Linked DNA regions of Homo sapiens. The protein of the gene in region 4 interacts with the protein of the main gene of each other region in a pairwise test. Each region holds a gene or a part of one and is shown on either strand. Other genes may lie near its edges.

Evidence for each region. The genes of interacting proteins can lie anywhere in the genome.
Region 1: the proteins of PICALM (region 4) and EPN1 interact in a two-hybrid assay, tested with the Homo sapiens proteins (one large-scale study listed by IntAct).
Region 2: the proteins of PICALM (region 4) and TRAF3IP1 interact in a two-hybrid assay, tested with the Homo sapiens proteins (one large-scale study listed by IntAct).
Region 3: the proteins of PICALM (region 4) and SNX33 interact in a two-hybrid assay, tested with the Homo sapiens proteins (one large-scale study listed by IntAct).

Annotation. Positions count from the first base shown.
Region 1 is NC_000019.10:55,687,668-55,692,237, reverse strand, and holds part of EPN1 (epsin-1), read right to left. Parts: intron 3,369-4,570; coding exon 3,244-3,368; intron 2,942-3,243; coding exon 2,867-2,941; intron 2,372-2,866; coding exon 2,288-2,371; intron 485-2,287; coding exon 181-484; intron 1-180. UniProt on the Homo sapiens protein: Binds to membranes enriched in phosphatidylinositol 4,5-bisphosphate (PtdIns(4,5)P2). Modifies membrane curvature and facilitates the formation of clathrin-coated invaginations. Regulates receptor-mediated endocytosis.
Region 2 is NC_000002.12:238,392,460-238,397,029, reverse strand, and holds part of TRAF3IP1 (TRAF3-interacting protein 1), read right to left. Parts: intron 1-4,570.
Region 3 is NC_000015.10:75,649,854-75,654,423, forward strand, and holds part of SNX33 (sorting nexin-33), read left to right. Parts: coding exon 1-720; intron 721-4,570. UniProt on the Homo sapiens protein: Plays a role in the reorganization of the cytoskeleton, endocytosis and cellular vesicle trafficking via its interactions with membranes, WASL, DNM1 and DNM2. Acts both during interphase and at the end of mitotic cell divisions.
Region 4 is NC_000011.10:85,955,573-85,959,543, forward strand, and holds the end of PICALM (phosphatidylinositol-binding clathrin assembly protein), read right to left. Parts: intron 3,489-3,971; coding exon 3,474-3,488; 3' UTR 1,603-3,473; downstream 1-1,602. UniProt on the Homo sapiens protein: Cytoplasmic adapter protein that plays a critical role in clathrin-mediated endocytosis which is important in processes such as internalization of cell receptors, synaptic transmission or removal of apoptotic cells.

The sequences.
Region 1 (4,570 bases), on a different chromosome or scaffold from region 4:
TCTCACACACCCTGTGCTGGGCTCTCATCTGACCCCCGCCCTTGCCCCCTCCCCTGCACCCAGGACGCCCCACCACTGCCCGGCGCCACTGGCTCGATCTGTCCCTGTCCAAGGGCACAGTCAACCAAAGACAGGTGCACACAGGCGTAGGGGCTGCATGCAAGTGGGCCACGCACTCACCATCGGAACTTCCCCATGGATCAGGCGTGGGCCCCTCCCCAGCTGCAGGGGCTGGGGTCCCACCCCAAGGGTCAACTGAGGGTCCTGCAGGGGCAGCAGGCCTCCAGGGGTCCCCAGAGGCCGGCGTGGGGGCTGGACCTCCCCAGGGATCAGCAGCTGGAGGGACAGGGGGGCCGCCCCAGGGGTCCGAGGTGGGGGCAGCCGTGGGGACGGCAGCAGCCATGGGTGCTGGGCCCCCCCAGGGGTCTGTGGTCGGGGCAGGAGCTGGGGCCGTGAAGACGTCAGCAAGGTCCATGAGGGACGACTGTGGGGGAGAGAGAAGAGAAGGAGCATGAAGAAGTGGTGGGAAGCCTGGGACAGGGACCAAGCTGGGGCCCGTGGCGGGGGAGGCGGCCAGGCCCTGGGTGTCCAGACAGCAGCCATCCATAAGGGGTGAGAGGGAGGCAGGCCCCAAACACACCACCTGGCCTCCCTCCTCATCCGTCATGGGGTCGGCCCACCCCTGCCCACCTACCCCACCCGAGGGTACCACCAGGGAGCCCCAACACAGCCCCACTCCTGCCCCACATCCATTCTCCACACTGCAGCAGGGCAGCCCCTTAACTCCACCTGCTCCCAGGTCCTTGCCCGGCCCTGACTGAGGATGGAGGCCAAGCCCTCCCCTCGCTCGACCCGAAGCAGCTCGATCCTCCCTCTGCCCACCGTGCCTTCTCCAGCCAGACTGGCCAGCCCCTGCTCCATGCCTTCCCCTGGGAAGCCCCCCATGAACCCACTCAGGTCAACCTGAGCACCCCTCACGATGCCCCCTACGTTGCCCCGCCGTCACCCCGCAGTCATCGCGCTGCAGGCCTTCCCACGCCCATTGCCCCACTGTCACCCCGCAGTCATCGCACTGCAGGTCTTCCCATGCCGCACGCACACGCATGCATGGTCCTGTGTTCTGGAAGTGGGCACACGACGGGCCCAGCTAACCAGAGCCCGTCTCAGAACGTGCAGATGCCCCCAACATACTCATGCACACATCTCCAGTCAGCACCCGTGAGGCAAAGGCCCCGGCGGGGATGGGAAGGGGAGAAGAGCTGAGTCCAGGGCAGGGCAGGAGAAGAGATGGGTGAGATCTGGTGCTCCCCCAGCAGGGCAGCCCTTACTCGGGTCACTGGGCTGTGGTGGACACTGATAGAGACCCCCTGGCCGAGGCCAACCTAAAGAGGCTTTCCGTCTACCAAGAAAGTCCCACTGTGCCTGATCACTTATGGCCACAAGCTGTCTGCCGCCTCCCATGGAGAGGAGGCCTTGTCCCCACCCCTCAAACTTGGGCTGGCCTCAGGACCTGCTGAGACCAATAGCAGTGCACAGGCTGACGAGGCAACTCCAACCCAGCCCGACGAGCTTGTCCTGGGGGGCGGCAGCAGCAGCAGCTACTGTGCTATGAGGACACTCAGGACAGACTAGTAACCAGGGAGAGGCCAGGGGAGGAGGCTGGAGGGCAAGGCCAGTGCGGACACCCCGGGCCCAGAGGCATGAGTGACCTCAGCCATGACACGAAACAACCAGCCAGCGGGCCCGTCACAGGGAAGTACTGAAGCGTGACCTGGAAGCACAAGGTTGTGGGAGGGTTTGCTACTCAGCTGCAGAGCATGGGGACGCCACAGAAACAGTGTTCGCGAGGGCGGGACCATGCCTCCTCGCTCACCAACAGGCCCTGGGTGTGCAGCACACGGCCTGGCACCAAGGAGGTGCCCGACAAAGTGTGACAGATGGGGCGAGCCCTGCACCCTCCTCCCTGTGGCCATGCCAGGCTGTTGGCCTATTCTGGGCCTCCCCATTCAGCTGTGGCGGCCGGTGGTGGCCCTCACGGTGCTCAGCCCGAAGGGGGATGGCCAGCGCTGACCACAGGAGGTGGCCGCAGGGCAGCCTGGTCAGTCACCGGCCTCAGCCCAGCAGGGAGGGAGAGGCACAGAGAGGCCGACCAAGCCTGGAAACCCGGTGCCCAGCTCCAGGACCTTGTGTTTCAGTCTCTGCTCCAGGGACCTGGCCACGCAGGAATGAGCGATGGGACGGACGGACACCTGCAGGGGCCAGGGAGGGCAGAACAAGCCCCGCTCACCTCCTCCTTGCCCCCAGTCTCCCTCTTGCTCTCCTCGATTGCCATCTGCAGCCGCAGGTCATCCCCGCGACGGATCCGCTCCTCCTGTTGGGGCACGGGCACGACCAGGGAGACATGAGAACGTGAGCCACGGGCAGATGCCACCTCAGCCTGGAAGCCCCAGCAACCCCTCCCACCCCAACGAAAGCGGCTGAAGGATTCGATGGGATGCGGACAATGTATGAAATGGGGATGGGGCACCTGGGTCAAAGGTCAGGCGGGACAGGGGATAAGGGGAGTGGGGTGCTGTGCTGGCGCACCCGGGGAGGACGGGCACCCGCCTCGGTGGTATCTCCTGCGTTGGGGGGAGGAAGGGACCCTGGTCACCCGAGCAACCTTGGCACAGCTGTGCTGGCCACCACCCAGGCTCTGTCTGACTTGTGGTCCTACATCCTACGGCTGAAGGTACTGAGGTTTCAACACGCGTGAGCCTGTGGGCTTCGGGCCCAGCAGGATGGTGGGGGGTGACTTAGGAAGGGGCGACGGGGCTGGTCTGAGGGGAGCCCCTGGCAGGGGCAGGGACAGGGAGGCTGCTCTGACCTTATCATGCTCTTCTCGGCTCAAACTAAGGGCCAGCTGGAGCTGGGCGTCGTCCTCGGGGCCGCAGGACGGGGGCTGGGGGAGAGAGAGTGTGAGGGGCATGACGGGAGGGGCCAGAGGCAGAGTCAGAGGCAGAGCCAGGGTCAGATAGAGCCGAAGAAAGAGAGGGCTGGGGGTCCCTGAACCAGTGAGGGACAGGCAGAGAGTGACACGCAGAGGGACGGCGGGGTGAGGATGAGGCAGGACTGGGGAGGAGACGAGTGACAGCATGTGGAGCAGCGACAGTGAGGGCCAGGCCCACGCCTGGCTGGGAGGGAGCCTGAAGTGAGGCGTGGAGGCGGGTGGCGGACAGACAGCCCCAGCTGCACGCCCAGTACCTGGTCGGCCTCCTCCTTGCTCATGGCCAGGGCCAGCTGGAGCTGCAGCTCCTCCTCCCCGCTGCTCTGCGGCCACGCCTGCTCCGCCTCGGGAGGGGGGCCTGAGCCCACAGCTGCTGATGAGGCTGGAGGGCGGGTGAGAAACGCGTGAGACCCAGACCAGGGAACGAGAGACAGGAAACCCCATAGCCTAGACAGACGGGGGCTTCTGTGTCCAACCCCACCCCCCAAGTCCCCCACCCTACAACCTCTGCAGGCCAAGACTAGGACTGAGAGGCGGAGACCAGACGCCAGGTGCTCAGAGGAGGAAGGGTGGGGATGCAGGCAGCCCCACCCACGGGAGGGGCCAGGCATCAGGGAAGGACCAGAGCAAAAGTCAGTCTGATAAGCAGGTGGGGAACCCCAGCAACCTCTGAGCCCTGCCACCACCAGGACTCTCCGCGTGCCTGGGGTCTGTCCCTGGGCCCCTGGGGGATGGGAGGTCCTTCCTCCCAGGTTTCCCAGGCCTGTTTCCAGGGCTTGTTGAGAATGGTAGCTCTGGCAGGGAACAACTGGAATTCAGAGGGGAGAACAGCATCCATTGAGACAGCGGGATCCAAGGCCTAGTCGGGGTTAGGGAGTGGGCTAGCGAGGAGCCCTTGGTTCCAAGAGCAGGAGGGGAAGGGAGAGAGAGGACACAGGAAGGCAGGGCCGGACCCTCCAGGAGGCTGCTGAGATATCCCCGGCCTCCACTGCAGCATCCTCTCAGCAACCCCGCCTACCCTCAAACTCTGTCCTGACACTGTTCTCTCCACCCCCAAGGCCTGTGGACCCTTGCCCCCCTCCACAGTGCAGAGGACAGGCTCCAACCAGGCCCTAGGCCCGCCGAGCACAGGGCCATTGCCCCAGCCTCCAAAGCCCCAGGGCGGACCCTGCCTCTCCTGCCCCGCCCTCCCAACCACTGTGCACTGGTCAGCAAGTTCTGTCTGCTCCAGCTCCAAGACGCCGCCTTGCACCTGTGTCCTGTACTTGTGTCCCCACCCAACCCACTCCCCAGGCCCAGGCCTCTCCCTGACGAGCAGGCCCTGGCTCCCCTTGCCCGGAGCCGCAGCAGGCAGCTGTCTGGCGGCCCCACCTGCACCGGGTCCAGGGGCCCCCAGGCTGGCCCCCGTGTGGTGTGCCCAGCAGGGCTGGGTGCATGGGATGCTCCAGGGAGCATGTGGGTGGCAGAGCGGGGCCGAAGGGTGACCATCTGGGGTTATGAGTGAGGAAAGGACGAGAGAACCAGCAGGGATTGACGGACTTGGGTGGGTAAGCGGCCTTCTGAGGGGATGGGCAGATGGAAGGG
Region 2 (4,570 bases), on a different chromosome or scaffold from region 4:
ACCTTCCATCCCAAATGACTTCAAAACCCAGCTTGCCAGGGGGCAAGGGGAAAGAAACCCAAAGGAGAGGCAGAAACTGGTGCCATGGAAAGGAGGGCATGGAGAATGTGCAGGGCAGCCAGCGCCAGCAGCAGCCAGCAGCAGCCAGCAGCACCCAGCAGGCAGATGGTCAGGTCGACTTAGACGTGACTGTGCTGGCCGCTCAGGGAGGCCACAGAGTCCAGGGGTCAGGGGCCAGATGGAAGGGGTCAAGTTGAGACAGCAGCAGGTGAAGGAGGTGAGGAGGACGCAGAGACGAGTGGGGAGCTGCATGCGGTTTGGGCCAGGAGTTCTTGGGTTCTTTGCCATGCAACATTTAGAATTCTCTTCATATGAGCTTTGATCACAGACATCTCTGAATGTCAGAAACTGATGTGAGTTGATAAGAATCAATAAGCTTGGGAAAATTAACATCAGTTCTTTCTCCTTCTTTCCTTTTTTTTTTTAATTTTTTTATTATTATTATACTTTAAGTTTTAGGGTACATGTACACAATGTGCAGGTTTGTTACATATGTATACATGTGCCATGTTGGTGTGCTGCACCCATTAACTCGTCATTTAACATTAGGTATATCTCCTAATGCTATCCCTCCCCCCTCCCCCCACCCCACAACAGGCCCCGGATTGTGATGTTCCCCTTCCTGTGTCCATGTGTTCTCATTGTTCAATTCCCACCTATGAGTGAGAACATGCAGTGTTTGGTTTTTTGTCCTTGCGACAGTTTGCTGAGAATGATGGTTTCTAGTTTCATCCATGTCCCTACAAAGGACATGAACTCATCATTTTTAATGGCTGCATAGTATTCCATGGTGTATATATGCCACATTTTCTTAATCCAGTCTATCGTTGTTGGACATTTGGGTTGGTTCCAAGTCTTTGCTATTGTGAATAGTGCCGCAATAAACATACGTGTGCATGTATCTTTATAGCAGCATGATTTATAATCCTTTGGGTATATACCCAGTAATGGGATGGCTGGGTCAAATGGTATTTCTAGTTCTAGATCCCTGAGGAATCGCCACACTGACTTCCCCAATGGTTGAACTAGTTTACAGTCCCACCAACAGTGTAAAAGTGTTCCTATTTCTCCACATCCTCTCCAGCACCTGTTGTTTCCTGATTTTTTAATGATCGCCATTCTAACTGGTGTGAGATGGTATCTCATTGTGGTTTTGATTTGCATATCTCTGATGGCCAGTGATGATAAGCATTTTTTCATGTGTTTTTTGGCTGCGTAAATGTCTTCTTTTGAGAAGTGTGTGTTCATATCCTTTGCCCACTTTTTGATGGGGTTGTTTTTTTTTTGTAAATTTGTTTGAGTTCATTGTAGATTCTGGATATTAGCCCTTTGTCAGATGAGAAGGTTGCGAAAATTTTCTCTAATTTTGTAGGTTGCCTGTTCACCCTGATGGTAGTTTCTTTTGCTGTGCAGAAGCTCTTTAGTTTAATTAGATCCCATTTGTCAATTTTGGCTTTTGTTGCCATTGCTTTTGGTGTTTTAGACATGAAGTCCTTGCCCATGTCTATGTCCTGAATGGTATTGCCTAGGTTTTCTTCTAGGGTTTTTATGGTTTTAGGTCTAACATGTAGTCTTTAATCCATTTTGAATTGATTTTTGTATAAGGTGTAAGGAAGGGATCCAATTTCAGCTTTCTACATATGGCTAGCCAGTTTTCCCAGCACCATTTATTAAATAGGGAAACATTTCCCCATTGCTTGTTTTTGTCAGGTTTGTCAAAGATCAGATGGTTATCTTCTTCCCTTTCTTTCTTCTCTCTCTCTTTCTTTACAGCCAGGGTCTCACTATGTTGCCCAGGCTACTCTCAAACTCCTGGGCTCAAGTGATCCTCCTGCCTTGCCCTCCCAAAGCGCTGGGATTACAGATGTAAGCCATCATGCCCTGCAACACTGTTTCTTTAGGAAGCCCTCCCTGGACACCCCCCCACCCACTCCAGACCGGTAAGGGGCCCTTCCTTGCCTCACCCACTTACAGAATGAGCTAGTAAATGCACTCAGTTGTAACAAATCAACTTATTTAATTTGAACGTATCATAGCTACATATTCACTTGCATTACTTCTGCTAGTTTCAGACTGTGGGCTCAGGAGGGCAGGACCTTGTGCCTAGATTCACTGTGATTCACATAAGCTCTGCCTAAGAATTTGTGAAATGAACTAATGAAGTGGATAAATGATTTATGTATGAAGATCCTAGTTCCACCATTTACTGGCTTGGACAAGTACAAGAAAGCTTTAGCATAATGCCTGGCACATAGAAAGTGTTAAATAATTGGGACTTTAAGTAAAACGTAAAACTCATACAACTAATAAGTGAGTTCAGCAAGGTTGTAGTATACAAGATGAGCATATGAAAATCAACTATATTTCTATGTATGAGCAATGAAAACATGGACACTGCAATTAAAAATACAATGCCATTGACAATTGTTCAATAGAAGACTATCCTTAGTTGTAAATCTAACAAAACATGTATAGGACTTGGAAATGGAAAACGAAACAATGCAGATGAAAGAAATCAAAGGAAATCTAAATAAATGAGAAGACACACTGTGTCCATGGAATGGAAGACAGGACACAGTAAAGACATGAATTTTCCCCAAACCGATACGCATGTTTAATGCAAATCCTACCAAACTTGCAGCCAATGTTTTTGTATAGACAAGATTATCCTAAAATGTATACAGAAAGGCAAAGGAACTACAATAGCTAAAACATTTTCAGAAAAAGAATAAAGACAGAAATAACCAGTCTACCCAATTTCAAGGCTTTTTTTTGAAACGGAGTCTCACTCTGTCGCCCAGGCTGGAGTGCAGTTGTGTGATCTTGGCTCATTGCAACCTCTGCCTCCCAGATTCAAGCGATTCTCCTGCCTCGGCCTCCCAAGTAGCTGGGATCACAGGCGCACACCAGCATGCCCAGCTAATTTTTGTTTTAGTAGACATGGGATTTCACCATGTTGGCCAGGTTGGTGTCAAACTCCTGAGCTAAGGTGATCCTCCCATCTCGGCCTCCCAAAGTGCTGGGATTACAGGTGTGAGCCACCGCGTAGGCTTCAAGTCTTTTTATACAATTACAGTAATCAAGACAGTGCAGTATTGACAGAGGGACATAGATCAAATGAACAGAACACAGAATCCAAAAGTAGATCCATACGAATATGTCCATATGCCCAAGCAATCTTTGACAAAGGTACAAAAGCAATTTAGTGGCAGAGAGAGCTTTGCACCATTTGGCACTGGGTTAAGTGGACATCCATAAGCCAAAAAACAAACAAAACGTTGACCTAATCTCATATCTTAAACAAAAATTAACTCGAAATGGACTATGGATTTAAATATAATCTATAAAACTTTAAGATAAAAAACACAGGAGGAAAAAGTCTTTGGGATCTAGGACTAGGCAAAGAGTTCGAAGACTTGACACCAAAAGCATGACAAAAATTTCAAATGTTTGCTCTGCGAAAGACCCTGGGAAGAAGCCGCAAAGGTAAGTCACAGAATGAGCAAAAACAACTGCAAATCACACATCCAATAAAGGACTTATAGCTAGAATATGCAAAGAACTCTTAAAACACAACAGCAAGAAAGCAAATAATTCAATTAGAAAATGGGCAAAAGACACATTTCACTGAAGAAGATATAAGGATGGCCAACACACACATGAAAATATGTTTGAAATCATTAGGCATTAGGGAAATGCGAATTCAAACCACAATGAGCCATCACCACACAACAATCAGAATGGCTAAAATAAAAAATAGTGACAACACCAAATGCTGGTTAGGGAAAACTGGATCACTCATTGCTGACAGGAATGTAAAAAGATATGGCCACTCTGGAACACAGTTTGGCAGTTTCCTATAAAACTAAACATGCAACTACAGTATCAACCAACAGTTGTACTCCTGGACACTTATCCAAACAAATGAAAATTCATGTTTATAGAAAAACCTGTATACAAATGCATGCGGATGCTTTAATCAAAGTAGCCACAAACTGGAAACAACCCCCGTGTCCTTCGATAGGTAATTGGTTAACTAAACTGTGGTGCATCCACACCAGGGAAAACTATCTACCAATAAAAAGGAACAGACTGGCCAGGCATGGTGGCTCATGCCTGCAATCCCAGCACTTTGGGAGGCTGAGGCAGGCAGATCACCTGAGGTCAGGAGTTCGAGACCAGCCTGACCAACATGGCAAAACCCCATCTATACTAAAAATACAAAGTTAGCTGGGCGCGGTGGCGCATGCCTGTAATCCCAGCTACTCGGGAGGCTGAGGCAGAAGAATCCCTTGAACCCGGGTGGGGGGGCGAGGTTGCAGTGAGCCGAGATCACGCCATTGCACTCCAGCCTGGGCAACAAGAGCAAAACTCCGTCTCAAGAAAAAAAAAAAAGGAACAGACTGCTAATCCATGGAACAAACTGGATGGCCCTCAGAGGATTAGGAATAAGAAAAGTGAATCCCAAGAGGTTACATGCTGTAGGATTCCTTTTACACAAGATTCTGGA
Region 3 (4,570 bases), on a different chromosome or scaffold from region 4:
CCTACAAGCTCACACCCACCCATGCTGCCTCACCCGTCTACCGGCGCTACAAACACTTTGACTGGCTCTATAACCGCCTGCTACACAAGTTCACTGTCATCTCGGTGCCCCACCTGCCTGAGAAGCAGGCCACTGGCCGCTTCGAGGAGGACTTCATCGAAAAGCGGAAGCGGAGACTCATCCTCTGGATGGACCACATGACCAGCCACCCTGTGCTCTCCCAGTACGAAGGCTTCCAGCATTTCCTCAGCTGCCTGGATGACAAGCAGTGGAAGATGGGCAAACGCCGGGCGGAGAAGGATGAGATGGTGGGTGCCAGCTTCCTGCTCACCTTCCAGATCCCCACCGAGCACCAGGACTTGCAGGACGTGGAAGATCGCGTGGACACTTTCAAGGCCTTCAGTAAGAAGATGGACGACAGCGTCCTGCAGCTCAGCACTGTGGCATCAGAGCTGGTGCGTAAACATGTGGGGGGCTTCCGCAAGGAATTCCAGAAGCTGGGCAGTGCCTTCCAGGCCATCAGTCATTCCTTCCAGATGGACCCCCCCTTTTGCTCTGAGGCCCTCAACAGTGCCATTTCTCACACGGGCCGTACCTATGAAGCCATCGGGGAGATGTTTGCTGAGCAGCCCAAGAATGACCTCTTCCAGATGCTGGACACACTGTCTCTCTACCAGGGCCTGCTCTCCAACTTCCCTGACATCATCCATCTACAAAAAGGTAAGGCCCAGTGCAGGCAGGAAACTCGTCCTGAGTCTGGCTCTCTGCTGGGCCCTGGGGAGATGGGGATGGCCTGGATAGAATGGAGCAACTTGTCTTTATTTCTCTGTCTCAATCATTCATTTAACAAATGTGTTGGGCTGGGCACGGTGGCTTACGCTTGTAATCTCAGCACTTTGGGAGGTTGAAGTAGGAGGATCACTTGGGCCCAGGAGGTTGAGACTACAGTGAGCCCGATTGTGCCACTGCACTCCAGCCTGGGTGACAGAGTGAGACCCTGTCTCTAAAACAAACAAACAAACAAACAAACAAACAAATGTGTTGAATATCAACTCTGTGTCTGTGGCAAATGTGCTTCTAGGTGCAGGGATATTGTTGTGCACAGGCCCGGTCTCTGTCCTCATGGAGCTTGATATTTACCTTCTTGTCAGTTCATTCATTTTCTCTGTTTGCATCTCGTTTACCCATCATGCATGGTGTCATGCTGGGTTCTGAGAACACATAGATGACCAGGCCCCAGGCCTTGCCCTTGAGGAGCCGGTAGGCCCTTGGGAGACACAGACCCAACCCAGATAACAAGAGCTCAGAGTGGGGGCCTGTCTTGTGCTCCTTGCAAGTTAACCTCCCCACCTTTGCAGCTTTGGAAGCTACTCTCACCACTGTGTATTCTCTTTATGAGCGTCTTGTCTGTGTGCAGGAAGATCCCTGTCCCCATTTTGCAGATGAAGGAGCTAGTGTCCACAGAAGAGTGGTTGCACAGCCTGTGGCCCGGCTGGGACTGTCCCTTCCTCCTGCCACCTCCCCAAGGACACGTCCATGTTGGCCACTTCCCAAGCCTAGCCATGTTTTCAGTTCTCATGACCCCCTCTGTGGGGGAGGGACAGGATGGGCCTCTGCCTGTTACTGCTGGGGCTGTCCATGAACTGCCGGGGAAATGACTCATCCTGGGTCACACAGGGGCACTCTGGCTGGGCCAGGGGTGCAGAATCAGGGGTCCAGGGCACTGTCCACATGGCCTATCCAACTCCTGCTTCCCAAGCCTGGCTTCTCTTCTTGCCTGAGGAGAGAGCCAGTGGCTGCCCCAGCAGGTGCCTGAGTCCTGGGCACAGCTGGGAGGGCAGATGTCAGGAGAGAGGTGTGATCCTCCCTGGGGCTGCTTGGTAACTCGTCTGCAGGGCGTGGAGCTGGCTCCCTGGCCCTTGGGCCCTGAGGTTAGACCTGGCTTGGTGGGGAGTTTGACTCTGGGTGGGGCCAGGGGGCAGACCTCTGCACTGAGCCTGGGGAACAGGAAACATGTCACCCACCACCACCAGGGAGGGCCTGGGGTAAGCTGGCCTTGCTTTCCTTTACCAAGAGGTTGACTTCTATAACTTCTCCAGCTCCCAGCCTCCTTTCTCCCCTTGCTATATCCTCTTCCTCTTCCTTTCTTTCTGTTTTTTTTTTTTTTTCTCTCATCTCTACCTTTCTTCCTCCTCCTCTGAACTCCAGGAAACACAAACCTGAGTGCTAGTCTTGGCTCTGCCCCTAGATTGCTGTGCGTCCCCGGGGAGTGCCTTTGCCCCTCTGGGCCTTAGTTTCCTGATCTGTAAAACAAGGGAATGGGGTCCCAGTGAGCCATCAGGCCTTCAAGGGAGTGGGTGGGAAGGGACTCCTGGGGAGGGTATGGCTCAGAAACAGAATGACACCTTAGCTCTGGCTCTGAGCACTGGGGCAGGAGTAGGGCAGGGGAGGTGGCCAGGCCTGCTGGGGGCCCACTGGGGCAGGTGTCTCCCTGAGCACAAGTGGGAAGGCTGGTTCAACCAGCTCCTTAGATGGCTTGTTCCTGTGCAGGCAGCAGGAGGGGGAATGCAATGATTAAACAGATGCTCCCATGCAGTGGCTGGGGACCCCCCACCCAGAGCAGAGCTGAGGACATTAGGGCAGCCCCACACCTAGGAAGGACACCAGGGCCTCCCAGGCTGGGGGGAAGCCAGACCAGCCTTTCTGACCCTGGGCAGAGAGACAGAGCTGAGATAGGCCATTTCTGAGTTTCTACTTGAGGTGTTTCTAAGAGTCAGAGGCCACTGTCCTCTGTGCTGGTGCATTTGACCTGAAACAGAGGCCAGCCCACTGCCTTCCCTCCCCGGGAGGACCCCTCCCAATGGGCCAAGCCCTCTCTGGCTTACTCTAAGTTCTGGGCTCTGCACTGCTCCTCCCAGGCCTGTGGTGTGGGGCAAGTTAGGGAGGGGGTACTGAGACAGAACTGGACAGGCTTTGGGGACCACAGCCCAATGGGAGTGATAAGGAGGGGGTCCTAATGCTGGCCTTAGGGGTGGAGCCCTTCTCAAAGAAAAGAGAAGAACAGTTGGGTCCTGGGCCCCCAGGATTCTGTCCAGCCTGTCTGGACATCTGAATGGGTGGTGAGTGTGTGGGAGGAAGGACAGTGGAGGCCTAGGTGGGAGTCAGGAGACCAGGATTTGGACAAACTTTGCATCTGACATGACTTTGGGAGAGATTTCTCCCCTCAGTCTCTAGGTGAGTAAAATGGGACCCGAGGGTCTTCATTTCCTTAGGAGGGCTCCATGTCATGTGAAACTTACATTAAACAAATTTGTATGCTTTTCAGAAAAATAATAAAATGAAATAAAATGGGACATAAACCCTGGCTGGAGCTGAGAGGAGCCTGGTCCTCCCACGGGCCTAGTCCCTGTAGCCCAATCCAGGGGTCTCCTAAGAGAAGGGTAACCATATAATTAACCAGGGCAGTTTGGGGCATAAAAGGGGGCCCTAGCAATAGTGATCCCGGGACAACAGGGGAAAGTAACTGTCCAGGGCAAGCTGGGACGTATGGACCCCCAACTTGACAGCCAGCAAGAGCGGGGCTGGTCCTAAGGCTCACGACAGGTCAGGAGGGCGATGTGGTCACTTCCGTTTTACAGACGAGGTGCAGCGATGCAGATGAGCCTCAGAGCAGGAGCTGGAGTCCAGTGTGTCTGGCTCCGCAGCCCAGGCTGTTTCCACTGTGCCCTCCCAGATGGGGGAGGGGATCCCCAGGGATGGAGAGCTGAGCCAGAAGGCGAAAGAGGAGGGAGGAAGGCTTGGGTGCTCCTTCACTGGTCCTGTGGGCTAGAGAGAGGCCCAGGACCACAGAGCTTCCATGGAGGGGCCATAGGGACAGCGTGGCCAAGGCAAAGTGGCGACTGTAGGGACAAGTTCTTGCCTGGGGGATGGGTGGGTTCAGCCTCTGGGTTCTGAGCCATCATCTAGCCTTCCCTCTACCGCTCATCCTGTAATCTCAGCACTTTGGGAGGCCGAAGTGGGCGGATCACAGGAGTTCGACACCAGCCTGGCTAACATAGTGAAACCCTGTCTCTACTAAAAATACAAAAAAATAGCCAGGCATGGTGGCAGGTGCCTGTAATCCCAGCTACTTGGAAGGCTGAGGCAGAAGAATTGCTTGAACCCAGCAGGCGGAGGTTGCAGTGAGCCGAGATCAAGCCACTGCACTCCAGCTTGGGCAGCAGAACAAGACTCCATCTCAAATTAAAAAAAAAAAAAAAAAAGAAAAGAAAAGCAGTTTTCAAGCCATAACATGTAGCATCTGGAGCTTCTATTGTATCTCAGGTGCGCTCCTTTGAACTGTGTACATATTAGTTCAGTTAAGCCTCAACTATACTATAGGGCAGGTACTATTATTATCCCATTTTACAGATGTGGAAACTCCTTAAAGCACTATACCGTGTGAGAGGTTGTCAACAGCATCACATCTAGTGCAACCTGTCCCACTGGGCAGTGGGGAGACCTGGAGCCCAGGCAAGAGCAGTGGCTTGCTGGAGAGGATACAGCTAGGACTAGGACTCAGACCTCCTGC
Region 4 (3,971 bases):
CCTTTTGGATTGGTGATACTTCAAATAGGACATTACTTCTTAGTAACAGCAAGAAATCAGCTTAATGTTTTCAGCAAGAGACAGCATGGATGATAATGCAGCCTTTCTTTTCCGAAACTTCAGACAGCAGAATTCCAGAAGGGCTAGTCACACCCATGGAAGGCAGCAAGTGTGGCAGAACAAAGATCTAAGCTGACTGCAGAGGCCACTGATGAAAGCTGTGAAATATCTTTCCTGGAAGGCAAGAATAAATTCATCTGGCTTACTACTGTGGTGTCTCCATACATTGTGACCTAGTCACTGCTAGCACACAGGAGCCACACTCACTCTTAAGAGAGATTTTTTTTCTCTGTGGAATTTTGTAGAATAAGCAAACAGAGTTTGGAAGCGTGTTTGTGAGTTACGATAAATGAGAAGAACCTTGAAATTATTTTTAGTTCAAGAAAAACATCCCATTAAGGCCTATTTCTCATAAGTCACATTTTGTTGGCTTCTGGAAAAGCAGAAGATTCCTAGGCTAACATAAGGAAGTCCTCTTCCTAAATATGTATTCTCATAGTCACTTGTTAAGAAAGGGATACCTTTTAAAAAATGCTGAATGCTGATAGATGTTAAATCAAAGGCAAATAATTTTGAAAACGATTTGGGACAGGTACAGTTGTCCTCTGCTTACAATCTTCTCTCTTATCTCAGCCAATAGCTACTTGCTAACTGGATAGTAAAATGACATGAGCATGTATGAGTTTACAGCCTGATGTAATTATGTAATCAATAGCTGATTTACTTCACTCATTATATTTTGGTTAAAGTTGCTCTTGTCGCATGTTTGCATTCTTCCTTGTCAACGATGTCTGGGCATCAGAGGAGGAGGCAGGAAATGTACTTCACTAAAGACCACTGGGAATAAAGAGTGGCCATCAGTCTAGATTGCAGAGGGAAACAATCTCCATGTCAGTATATATATATGAATTACGTGACAGCAGGTCACAGAGAGAACAATGGACCATGAAAGCAAAGATTTGATTTCCATCTGTTAACTTACTCATCTGGGCAAGTTCCTTTTTTTTTTAAACAGGGTCTCACTCTGTCACCCAGGGTGGAGTATGCAGTGGCATGATCCCAGCTCACTGCAGCCTCAACATCCTGGACTCGGGTGATCCTACCACTTCAGTCTCCCAAGTAGCTGGGACTATAGGCATATACCTGGCTAATTTTTGTATTTTTGGTACAGATAGCGTTTCACCATGTTGCCCAGGCTGGTCTTGAACTCCTGGGCTCAAGTGATCATGTACCTCAGCCTCCCAAATTACTGGAATAACAGGTGTGAGCCACTGCACCCAGCTCCTTTTCTGATTTCTGATTCCTACATATAAAATGGGTAAAATATGGATAACACTTATCAAACATAGCCCAAAAGTTGTTTAAACAATGAAATAAAAATGGCTATGAAGCACGTCACATACTGAAACATACTTAAAAAAAAAAAGGCAATATGAAAGAAAACAAGCCACAGACCTTAAATATAAACACCTCCTCAAACACCACAAGAGACAAAAATTTGTAAAGTTAAGGAGGGTAACTTATAAAAGTACAACTTCCCAGTTTATATGAAAATGGTTTAATAATACTGAAACTTAAAAGCTGATAAAATTTATTGGCTACGACTACATTTTTTCTCCAATCACAGCAAATATTATGAGACACTTATCAATGCAAAGCTTTTGATCCTTTATCATGTACTCTGAACCCTATGCACTACTAAATAGGCAATATGATACAATCAAAGGTTTCTTTGGCAGACATAATTATATGTACCAAAACATTAAACTGCGTATTTTCCCTTAAACTTACCTGACTAAAGGCATCTGATCAAAAGACAAAAAGTGAACAATTTTAATAAGTAGTTGCATTTATCAATAAGAGTCTACAAGGTAACAAAAAGTGTAAAGAGACATCTTTTTGAAAATTCATATAAAACAAACCTTCCATGTTATTAGATCAACAAATATAATCACCTGGGTATATTTTATTAGGGAAAAATGACAATATTGATAATAAAAAGAGAAAGGAAAAATGAAAATGCATCTCAGACCAGAATACCATAACAAAACTTTTGTGGAAGCTGCATTTTATTTGAAAATCCACCCATTTTGCTAACATACATTTTAATATTGTAAACAAAAATAGAATCTGCAGAGACAATGCAACAAGAATGCTTAAACTCATGTACAGAATTGCTTTCCTACAATGAACTGTCCTTCTTAAGGCCCCTCTCCACCCAAATGTTAAAGATGTATTTACACAAAGCACCGATCAACAGTGCAGTTTAATTCTTCGTTTACTAAACTCTTGGCTAGACATTAACTTTAAAGATACTATTTCCCCTTATTTAAAAGGTATATGATCATAACATGGCACGAGCCAAAGAAAATGTTCAAGGACTTTGCCCCCCTTCCCTCCCCCTTGTAACACCTTCTAGAGTTTTAGTGAAAAGAAGGAAAGTCTTGAAGTGAAAGCAATTCCTCACATTCATTTTGGAAAGGCCCTAATGTCAAATGGAAAATAATGACATGCCAAGCACAAAGCAGTAAAGATCCTTCCCAATGCACTAATGCTGAATTTAAAATGTAGTGCTTTTCCTAGTCAGTGAACTGTTCCCTGGCAAAATCCTAGGCACAGAATTGACTATAAGGATTAATGCATTTATAATGCTTCCCTAAATCCCACAGAGGCCGAGAATTCTTAAGAGATTCAGACCTATGGACTTGCCTTAAAATATTTAGTGCTCTGTATGTCAGCTGAGAAAAGCATTCTGAATCAGATTCATTCTTGTGGATAAAAATCAAACATACTGTGCACATCCATACTCATTTTCATAAGGAGGTCTGATACAATATTAATGTTATGTAAAATTGATAATCATAAATAAATACAAATACTTAAGGAATGTCTACTGCAAACTGAATATAATTTTTTTTAAAAAAAGAAAAGTTAATTTCAGTTATTGTTTCTGTATTTGTGAGGACTGGAGAAAAGAAAGATAATGCATAATTAGGAATTTTAATTTTGATCCCCCAAAAGAGTCCTGTTGAAATACAGTAAAGGACACAGTTCTTCTCTCCAGGCAGCTTTTCCAAATACAAATTTCACACTTTCCAAATAAGGGCTTTTCTTGATAGGTTACTGATTATGGGTATTAACAGGAGTTGAAAGAATTGAAGGGTTAGTCACCAAAAAGACAGATCTTAGTCTTAAATCATAGCAATTCTTGGCTTTATAAACTGTATTGATACGTTCTCCTATAAACTAGTCCCAATTTCCTTCATGGGCCTTCACTGAGTTACTTGTAGCATTCTAATGGAAGAAGAGAGTTTAAGAGATTTAAGAGACAGCAGTTTGGATTTTGCTGGAAGTAAGGATTTTGCTGCTTGAGCACTTGTCTTTTTGGAGTAATTCCATTTTCTTCCATCAAGTTACATAAACTGTATCTGGAAAAAAAAAGTGGGTATGTTAATTCATTGTATTGTAGGATGTCTTCTCATAAATAAAAATGCTTTGTGGTCTTTACCATTTAACTGGCCCAGAAGTGTTCACAACATGCTTATCACAAACCCTGTTTATAAAACAAAGTCAGTATTATCAACTTATGTGCCAGAAAGCTCAATATTTGACACATATAGGGACTTCCAAATAATGTTTTTTGTTGTTGTTTTTGAGACAGAGTCTTGCTCTGCTGTCTAGGCTGGATTGCAGTGGCATGATCAAAGCTCAATGGCTGGGCACCATAGCTCACACCTGTAATCCCAGCACTCTGGGAGGCTGAGGTGGGCAGATCACCTGAGGTGAGTTCGAGAGTTCGAGACTGGCCTGGCCAATATGGTGAAACCCCGTCTCTACTAAAAATACAAAAATTAGCCAGGCGTGGTGGCGGGCGCCTGTAATCCTAGCTACTCGGGAGGCTGAGGCAGGAG